2 separate regions of the Homo sapiens genome follow, and region 1 is linked to region 2. The links come from fine-mapping of genetic effects on gene expression. Tissue or cell type: whole blood. Region 2 holds a variant in brackets; the other region holds the start of a gene. All regions are shown on one strand. Distances are between the middles of the regions.

What was found. PIP is the estimated chance that this variant, and not a neighbour inherited with it, causes the effect.
Region 1: FIG4 starts here. The variant in region 2 is fine-mapped to the expression of FIG4 in whole blood (TOPMed, PIP above 0.99).

Annotation. Positions count from the first base shown.
Region 1 is chr6:109,688,353-109,693,505 of GRCh38, forward strand. It overlaps FIG4 (FIG4 phosphoinositide 5-phosphatase), which reads left to right and starts at 2,944. Exons shown (of 23, transcript NM_014845.6): 1 at 2,944-3,149. The coding sequence starts at 3,084. AK9 (adenylate kinase 9) reads right to left here and starts at 2,850. Exons shown (of 41, transcript NM_001145128.3): 1 at 2,795-2,850. RefSeq lists an enhancer at 2,428-2,897.
Region 2 is chr6:109,541,463-109,546,790 of GRCh38, forward strand. AK9 (adenylate kinase 9) reads right to left here. Exons shown (of 41, transcript NM_001145128.3): 26 at 4,405-4,665; 27 at 585-709. Among named protein-coding and RNA genes, the nearest start is that of ZBTB24-DT, 60 kb to the left of the region's middle. The variant C/T (reference allele first, on the strand shown) is at 3,006.

The DNA of each region.
Region 1 (5,153 bases), 150 kb after region 2:
TGTTTTTCCTACCTGCAGTGCCTTGGCCAGCACCACTACCTAAAGGTTTAGAGTATGTCTCATTTATCTTCATGAGATCTCATATACCATTGCCTTGGATCAGAGGACCCTTTTTACAATACCACTTTACCTAGAAGCTACTGGTTTGACAGAATGTTGGAATGGTCTCTTAAAGGCACAGCTAAGGCGCTAGCTTGGGATTGTGTGGGATTGAGACAATGTACTTCAAGATGAGGAACATGCTTTGAATCAAGGGCTGGAAGTAGGAGTGACCCCTCTCACTAATACTCTCAGTGATTGACTTGGGAAATTTGCACCTCACTTCTGGACAAGAGGTCCTGGGTCTGGTGGAGGGGAGAGATGGTTCTATCAGGGGACCCAGTAAAGGTTTCATTAAATCTTAAAACTACTGCTGCCACCTGGTCATTTTTGACTCCAAAAGCTCATAAGGAGTTATTGCACTGGCAGATGGAGATAGGGTTGCTGCTATGTGATTGGATGAGATTGGGGGTGCTCAGGGTGGTATGGCCATAAACTGCTAGATAAGTGGGATAGGGGATGCATTTCTTGAACTCAGGGGATTCTCTGAGACAGCTCTTGATGCTTTCATGTCCAGTGAATGGGTAATTGCAGCAACCAAAACCTTACAATGACACAGTAACCAAGGGCTTATGCTCCTCAGGGATGAAAGCTTGTTATCCTACTGGGCAAACACAGACCAGCAGAAGTGTTGGCCAAGAGTAAGGAAAATCTAGAATGATGTTAGAGGAAGGAGATGATCAATTAGAGACCTCAGATTAATTGCAGTAGTGGATTCTGCAGCTTGTCCCATTAATCTTTTTTTTTGTAAGTCCTTTTCTTTTAAAAATTGAGACTAGCCACTACCTTAAAGAATTAGGGTGGCATGGTGTGAACTTGATGTGGAGGAAGAATGGATACGAGTGCTGCAAAGGGTGGAATGTAGCAGCTGCTATTAGTGCCTCCCCCATATCCACTTGACATACACCTTTTCTATGCACGACCAGCCCAACTTCCAAAATGTTAGCATGTGCGACTTTTTGCCTAAGGGCTTTCTCTGGCTGCCAGAACCTACTCTCCCTGAACACAGGGTAGACTGGAAGTTCTAGGGCATCAATGTTCTGCCCTATCAGGCTTCATCCAATAACTGATGGAAGTTGGCGAATAAATACTCCAGCTTCCTTGCCCCTCAAGAGGGGATAACTGAGACATGCCTCCCAGTATTCCCTAGTGAATTCAGCCCACAGAGAAATTTCTCTGGTAATATTTCCTTTATTAGTTTTCTTCCCCTCCCTGCTGCTGTTTCCTGGGATTACGTCTCATATAAACAACCTGCCTTCAAAGTTTTGTCTTAGGATCTGATTCCGGGTGAAATAAACTAAGATAAAGTTAAAATGGAAGTGCTAAACTATAATAATTGAAAACTAGAATCCTTCAGGTATTTTAAGAGTTGCTATCCTAGATAAAAACACTGTGCAAACATTTAACTAATATTCAGAAGAGTTGGTTTCATTATGAAACAGAACACAGCTAACTATTTTTCCCAGTTAAAAGATCCAAGTCCAAAATGCCAGAACGGACACGGCCATCCTTCTAGTTCTTAATAAAAGGAGTACCAAACTACAGGGGGAAAGAAGCGCAAAATAACATAGACTTAAGTATTTCTTTACAATTTTTGTAATTTCTCAAATTTTAATTTACAATATGATCTTTGGTATTACATGAATGTTATCTGGGTATGCTATAATTCTATAATTTTTTTTTAAAGTTTCCTTACACTTAGCAGTTGAGAAGCCCTCTAGCAGAGGTTTCTGAGGTTTAGAGGTTTCCTGGGAAACCTAGAATTGCCGCCTAAGATAGGATAGCTGCCTCTCCCCTACATCTTATACTCTTGCAGTAGGTGTTCAGTAAATATTTGTGGAATAAATACTTCAGTCGTTGAAAGGAGACGTGGTTTTAAAAAGTGGATTTACAAAGAGACCGTTTTGCAAGAAAAGAAGCTGGTCTGGGGGTCCCCGCAGGAGGCGGGGTTCCGTGCAACAGATACCAAGATGCCTCCAGGGCGGACCACGACCCAGCGGGCCGCCGGAAGGCTCCTTACCTGGCCGCAGCCGGACCCTCCTCAGGGAAGCAACTGCCTCCAGGGACTCCGCGGGGCTGTCGGGCGGTTGCCGGGGAGACCTCTGGCCGCCACGCACCTGCTGCTTGGTGGGGCGGGGCCTCGAGAGGCGGGGCTGTAGTTCTTTGTCATTTCTTTTCCAATTCGAAATAGTCACTTTTGTACCTAATTTGGCATTTATAATTATAATACACTCATTTTCACAACTATGGAAGAGAGGGTACGCGCATGCCCATTTATGTCGCACACATGAAATGAAGAAACCTCATTTCAAGCGCGGCTCCGCCACACTGCGCTAGTCTCTGTCGACAACTTCAAGTGGCTAGCCTCACGCACAAACGTGTGGCAAAGCCACACTTTCCAGCTTTAGGTGATTTTAAAACAATTTCTTGGGCCACACAGCGTAGGTACAACATGGATTAGAGGTGAGGGGAAAACTGACACTCAGTGAAGGACCGTCAGAGGGCCGGCTTCCAGGAAAATGGGCCGCAGCAGGCAGGGAAAACACAAGGATCTATCCTGCAACTCGGAGAACCCTTTTCAAAAGAAGCTACCCAATCCCAAACCTTCCGCTTTTTTCCAAAGAGAGGGAGGAGATAAATAGACTCAATTAATCCGTCGACTTTTTCTCCGCCCATGTTTTCCTCCAATCCTTACCAAAGATGGTGCCCTTCGCTTCCTCTCTCGGCAGCACGCAGGTCCCGGGAGCCTCTACCCGACCTCTCTATGATACGTCCTCCAGCCCCGCTCCCGACGTGAGGGGCGGGGCTTGCCTGGAGGCGGGGCGCAGGGATCCGGAAACACCTGATCATCTATAGGTTTAGTGCCTAATGGGTGTTGTTCCTGGCTGGACTTGATGTCCAGGGCCTGAGGGGTTTTCTCGCCGAGTCTCCTGGGGCGGTCCGGAGGCTCGTGCCCTGTTGTGGGGCCCCCATTTGCCGCCGCCATGCCCACGGCCGCCGCCCCCATCATCAGCTCGGTCCAGAAGCTGGTTCTGTATGAGACTAGAGCTGTGAGTACCCCCTCGCGGCGGGGCGCAGGCGGGAGGATGGATGTCTGCCGGTGGGTGTGGGGCCGTAGGACAGAGGCTGTACTCTGCCTCCTCCTCCTTCCTCTCCAGTTCCCAAATCCCTGTCAAACACAGCCTTGGGGTAAGCTAGCTCCCTTGAGCTGTGCCTGGGCGCCTTTCCCCTATTTTGGTACCCTGGACATTGCAGCATTTGCAGGTCCACTTACAAGCCATGGCTGGAACACGCTGGAAACAGGTGCTTGTGGTACCTCAGGAACTGTTCATGAGGTTCTCTGTACGAGTTACTGGATTCTTTTCAGCTTTCAGAAAGTCTGTTAAAGTTCTAGAGTTCACAAGTTACAGTACAGGCAGGGGTATGAAAAAAATTTGAACTATGACTTGTAACTTATTTTTTCCTATTCCATGGTATACCATCACTGCGATTCATGTGAATTACACTTCTATTGGTGAACTTTTTGGTTCTCTTTTTTTCTTATTTGAAAGGAAAGGAAAACTTACTTTGTTTAAAGACAGATAATTTGTTTGGATAACATCTTGCTTTTCACTTGACTTTTTTCAACATAACATTTACTTTTAAAATTTTATTACTTTGAATGGCCATGTAAATAGTGAATAAGCAGATCAGTTTGTATTTCGATTACCAGTTCCTCAATTAAGGGAGAATGGTGTTTATATAACTTCATACTTGGTCCTTTCTGTGGGTGGAAAGCAAAGTTGGTACAGTATAGCTCTTCTAAATTGGGGTGCCACAGTGATATTAGGGACTGTGTTTAATATTACCCATTTCATGCTAACAAGATTGCATATGCCAGATATTTTCATAATGCTCTTCACTATGTTATAGAGTGCTTTATAAACTGTTTCTCTGAAACTTGGGTTGTCTCCATTAGAGGAGTATGAGAAGGCATTTAACAGTTTCTCAGTTATAACGTAGTCCTAATAGCACAATAACCTCTCCCTCAGGTTAACATGAGTAGAGAATTGTGGACCTTAAATTAATTTTGCTGACAACTTTGATTAGATCTAGAGCAGAAAATGACATTATCAAATATACTGTATTTGCAAGTATTTTCAGTTCTCTAATGAGACCCATAAAGAAGTATCATTTGTCATTGAAATGAAACCTATTTTCTGTAAAATATGCTGCTAAATTTCCCTCATTAGAAACATAAATAACTTTTTTTTTTTTCCCTTTGAGACAGAGTCTTGCTCTGTCACCCAGGCCGGAGTGCAGTGGTGCTATCTCGGCTCACTCACTGCAACCTCTGCTTCCCAGGTTCAAGAAGTTCTCGCACCCCAGCCTCCCAAGTAGCTAGGATTACAGGAATGTGACACCATGACCGGCTAATTCTTGTGTTTTTAATAAAAGACAGGGATTCTCCATGTTGGCCAGGCTGGTCTAAAACTCCTGGCTTCAGCCTCCCAAAGTGTTGGGATTACAGGCATGAGCCACCGCATCTGGCCGTAAATAAAACACAAATTTCAGCCCATTAAAAAGCTGATCACTCATGAGGACTGCGTGAGATATTAGTGTTCAGAAAGCACAATTCATATTATAGGGCTCTTCTGCTCAGAAATCTTCAGTGGTCCCAATTCTGAAGCAAGTAAACTCTGAATCCCTTAGTTGGCATTCAAAGCCATGTATTATTTGTCCTCAACTTGTCTATCTAGTTTTACATCTAATTTAATATCAATTAATGAAACATTTATTGAGGATCAACCATGTGCCTTCATATGCCTTATTCTGCAGTAAAACTGTATTGCTTTCAGTTCCCTATATCTGCCCTGTGTTTTTCTGCTGTTCTCTATTCTCTTAATGCCACACCCCCTCTTTTCCTGTCAAAACCTTGCTGATCCTCACAGCACATATCTGGTCATGCCTTGCAAACAGTAGTCTCTCAATAGATGTGGATTAAGGAGCTCTAACACAAAGAGATAGAGGTGTGTTCCAGAACTCAGCTGTGACCCCTCTCAACTGCCTAAGTA
Region 2 (5,328 bases):
TGCAATGGCACTGTCTCGGCTCACTGCAACCTCTGTCTCCCGGGTTCAAGTGATTCTCCTGCCTAAGCCTCCGGAGTAGCTGGGATTACAGGCATGTGCCACCACACCCAGCTAATCTTGTATTTTTAGTAGAGACAGAGTTTCTCCATGTTGGTCAGGCTGGTCTCGAACTCCCAACCTCAGGTGATCCACCCGCCTTGGCCTCCCAAAGTTTTGGGATTACAGGCATGAGCCACTGCACCCGGCCCTACAATAAATTTTAATGGTGCATAATATTTAGCTATTTTGTTTAGGTTTTTACAGTTTTACCACAAATGCACTTTAGAATAACCTGAGGGTACTGAAAAATATCCCAGGCTCACACTCCTAGAGTTTCAAATTCAATTATTTTGGTGTGGGGTCCTGCAATCGGTATTTTTAAAGACTCTACAGATGTTTTTAATGTGTATCTCAAGTGAAAAATCACCAGCTTACATGAATATAAAGGAGAAAGTTCTTAAATGTATGTTAAACTACATTTTTAACTTTTAAGAATAAAACAAATAAAAGCAAATAAATGTACAATTCTATATAAATTAAGATACCGTATTGGTTCCTTAAGCCACCACTCAGAAAGAATTACTTCAAGAATTTCAGGAGGCAAGGGCTCATTTTCCATTAGACTTGATTTGATTACTTCTTCTTCTTCTGTAAGTTGTACTTCTGGAAGCTAAAAACAAAAATCAGAAAACAAAACAAGTTTTAAAACTCTATGCTAATAATTGCATGTTCTCACTCATATGTGAAAGTTAAAGAGGAGGACCTCATGGAGGTGGAGAGTAGAATGAAAGTTACCACAGGCAGGGAAGGGTGTGTGGTAGGGATAGAGGACATGAAGAGAGGCAGGATAATGGGTACAAACATACAGTTAGATAGAAGGTGTAAGTTCTAATGTTCAATAGCACAGAGGGAAACTATAGTTAGTAACAATGTATTGTGTATTTCAGGATAACTAGAAGAGAGGGCTTGAAATGCTCCCAACACATAGCAATGATAAGTGCTCAAGGTGATGGATATCATAAATACCCTGACTTGATCCTTATACATTCTATGTGTGTAACAAAATATCACAGGTACCCCATAAATATGTACAAATACCAATTTAGAAAACCCCAAAATCTATATTCATAAACAATATGGTATTACGTAGCTGATTAGAATGAGACCTGTTATTTTCTCTGAGGTCTTTTTTTATAGTGTTGCTTATAAACATTTAAAAATTTGGGCTATTTTCTATAAACCAATTATTTAATGTGGTTAGAAATACAGGTTGTACAAAAGTAATTGCGGTTTTTGCTTTAAAAGTAATGGCAAAAACACAACCACTTTTGCACCAACCTATAGTAAATAATATTTACTACAGCTAAGATAAATTATAAGTAATAATATGATTGATTTTCATACATGGCCTTGGGGTCATATCTCATTACTTTTTGCTAAACCTTTTTCAATTTATCACACACACGCCTATAAGGCTTAACTGATTTTTGTTATTTATATTATAATTTTACAGTATTATCTCTCCAACCTAGATCCTGATTATGGGATAAGCCAAACAGGCAGCCATCTGAAATACAAACTAGAAGAGGATTATAATGTAATAACAAATAGAAAGCATTGTGATAATTAACTGAGGTCAAGTCTCTCTAAAGTAGGATCACCCTTGAATGGATAGTAAAAAACAACAGTTCTTACAAAAATGAAACATTTTTGTTGAGTACTTTTGTCATCCAAAATTCTAAAACTGAATAGCTAAGGTATGATAAACTGCTGCTTACCGGGAAGCAGGATTAATTTTATTACCTAAAAATAAAATCCCTTAATTGCTTTCTGACAAGTTATTCAGAAAACAATAAAAGAAAACCAAACAAAAAACTGTAGACAAGCAGGAGATATTTGTTGCACTTTAAAATCTAGACTTGTTAAGTTAAAAAATCTGGACTGACATACTTTTTTCTTTTTTTGAGATGGAGTCTTGCTCTGTTGCCCAGGTTGGAGCACAGCAGTGCGATCTTGGCTCACTGCAACCTCCGCCTCCTGGGTTCAAGTGATTCTCCTGCCTTAGCCTACTGAGTAGCTGGCATTACAGGCATGTGTCACCACGCCTGGCTAATTTTTGTACTTTTAGTAGAGACGGGGTTTCACCACGTTGGCCAGGCTGGTCTTGAACTCCTGACCTCAAGTGATCTGCCTGCCTCCACCTCCCAAAGTGCTGGGATTACAGGCGTGAGCGACCGTGCCTGTCCCGATATACATTTTTTAAATTAATAGGATATCAGTTTCTCCTGAACGCTACTAAATATAGCTGAAAAACATTTAAAGAATATGTCTGAAGGCCAGGCACAGGTGGCTCACGCCTGTAATCCCAGCATTTTGGGAGGCCAAGGTGAGTGGATCACTTGAAGTCTGGAGTTTGAGACCAACCTGGGCAACATGATGAAATCCCATCTATACAAAAAATACAAAAATTACCCTGGCATGGTGGTGCATGCCTGCAGTCCCAGCTACTTAGGAGGCTGAGGTGAGAGGATCGCTTGAGCCCAGGAGTCAGAGGTTGCAGTGAGCTGAGATCACACCACTGCACTCTGGCCTGGGCAAGAGAGGGAGATGCTGTCTCAAAAAGAAAAAAGAATATGTCTGATCAGGTACTTCATTACCTATTAGAACACCATATGTCACTCACTATCCAACCCTGCTTCAACTTTGAGTGTTACATATAACTGCATTTGGATCATTTGAGAACAAATGGCCTATCTATATCAGAAATGGTTAAAATGTGAGTTAGAATGAAGAACTTTCATTGTATAACTCCAGATAGAAGCCATGTAAGAGGTTAATACGGTTTGGATCTGTTTCCCCGCCCAAATCTCATGTGGAATTGCAATCCCCAATGCTGGAGGTGGGGTCTGGTGAGAGGTGATTGGATCATGGGGGTGGTTTCTCATGAATGGTTCAGCACCATTACC[C/T]CCTTGGTACTGTCATGACGGTAGTGAGTGAGTGCTCATGAGATCCAGTGGTTTAAAAGTGTGTGGCACCTCCCACCTCACTCTCTTTCTCCTGCTCTGGCCATGTGATGTGTCTGCTCTCCCTTCACCTTCTGCCATGATTGTAAGTTTTCTAAGGCCTCTCCAGAAGCCAAGCAGATGCCACTATGCTTCCTGTATGGCCTGAAGAATTGCGAGCCAGTTAAACCTATTTTCTTTAAAAATTACCCAATCTCAGGTATTTCTTTATAGCAACGAGAGAACAGATTAATACAGTACAAACTTTCTGGTAAGACATCATTAGAAATTAATATTTTGAGATCTCCACTAAGGCTGGGGCAGATTTTTATGCTATTTGATAGAAATCAGAGAACACAATAATGGAAAAGTTTATTGTCTAAGTCAGATATACCAAATATCATACTTCCAAATAAATGCTATAAAACAGCCTTGTCAAGGAAAATTTTTCTGAATTTTTTTGGAGTCATATAAAACTCAGTACTTTATATTCTAGAAGAGCTGGAAGATTTGTATTTAGCATATGATGAATATGACTCTTTAAATGACTTTTATGGGCTAATTATTTTCTCTTCTTAGAAACTTTATAGAGTTTTATACTACCACTACCCCAGATTAACACCAGTAAGCACAGCTGTCTGCATAGATTAGTACTGCCAGGCACAGTGGCTCATGCCTATAATCCCAGCACTTTGGGAGGTCAAGGTGGGTAAATGGCTTGAGCCCAGGAATTTGAGACCAGCCTGGGCAACATAGCAAGACCCCCATCTCTACAAAAAATACCAAAACTAGCTGGGCATGGTAGTGCACACCTGTAGTCCCAGCTACTTGGGAGGCCAAGTGATATGGTTTGACTGTGACCTCACCCAAATCTCATCTTGAATTCCCACATGTTATGGGAGGGACACAGTGGGAAGTAATTGAATCATGGGGGCAGGCCTTTCCCATGCTGTTCTTGTGATAGTGAATAGTCTCACAAAATCTGATGGTTTTATAACGGGGAGTTTCCCTGCACAAGCTCTCTCTTTGCCTGCTGCCATCCACGTAAGATGTGATTTGCTCCTCCTTGCCTTCTGCCATGACTGTGAAGCCTCCCCAGCCACATGGAACTAATTGTAAGTCCATTAAATGTCTTTCTTTTGTAAATTGCCTGGTCTCGGTATGTCTTTGTCAGCAGTGTGAAAATGGACTAATACACCAAGGCAGGAGGATCACCTGAGCCCAGGGAAGTTGAGGCTTTGGTGAGCTGTGATTGTGCCACTGCCTTCCTGTCTGGGTGACAGATGGAGACCCTGTCTCAAAAACAACAACAATAACAACAGCAAAAACAAAACAAACAAAAAACAAAAAAAGAGATTACTACCTGCTTTTTTGTATTTTCTTCCTCAACTTTGACATTGGCCTGAATTGCAAGCTCTTCAAGTTCTTGTTTGGCAGCTTGCTCGTTCTCAGAATCTTCCTCAAATTCAGGTCCCACTTTCTTTTCAGTTTTGAGTAGTAGTTTTTCTTGAAGAACTTCTTCAAACTGAATGTGAAAAATGTTTAATTTTTCTGCCAACTGTCTTCCACACATAGTTTTGCCAGAGCCCTGGGGGCCGACAAGGCATATTCTTAATGGAGGAGCCTGTCACAGGGGGTGGGTCAGGGAGGGGTGGGATAAAGGGAGAGTGAAGGAAAAGCAGTTTTGAGTAATTTAGAACACATAAGACTTATTAACTGCCCTCCCTAAGATGGGGTAGGAATGATCACATCATGAACTCAAGGATGCTTAGATATTAGGATTTCAATTAACATAATTAGTTCCATCAACACTGGTCCTCAGGGAGCACCAACAACCATATATGATTATCTTGGTATCATATGCCAAAAGGCATTTAATAAAATAGAGTTTACTTATTTTTGTTTTTGACAAAAGTTTTAGTTAATACAGAATGGAAAGATACTTTCTTAACATAATAAAATAAATCTATCAAACAGAAAGCCCACTAATAATAAAAATTTACAGCCTTCTCCATTTATTACAGTAATCTCAGGACTCACATTGTGTGGATCATCCACGGGATGCTGAAACTGTCAAGAACAATGGTGAGTACTGGAATGAAGCAGCAGCTAAGTCTTCTGTGATTGTGAGGAAATACTAAGAAATTAGTAGGTGACAGCAGCAAGGAGGAACGGGGCTTCTTGATATATCCGAGTAGGATAAGCCTCAAAGGGGCTGGAGTTTTTGCAAGGGGAAGGAGAAAAATTAGAATGACATGAAATTATATAGCTGCAGCCTCACACCATA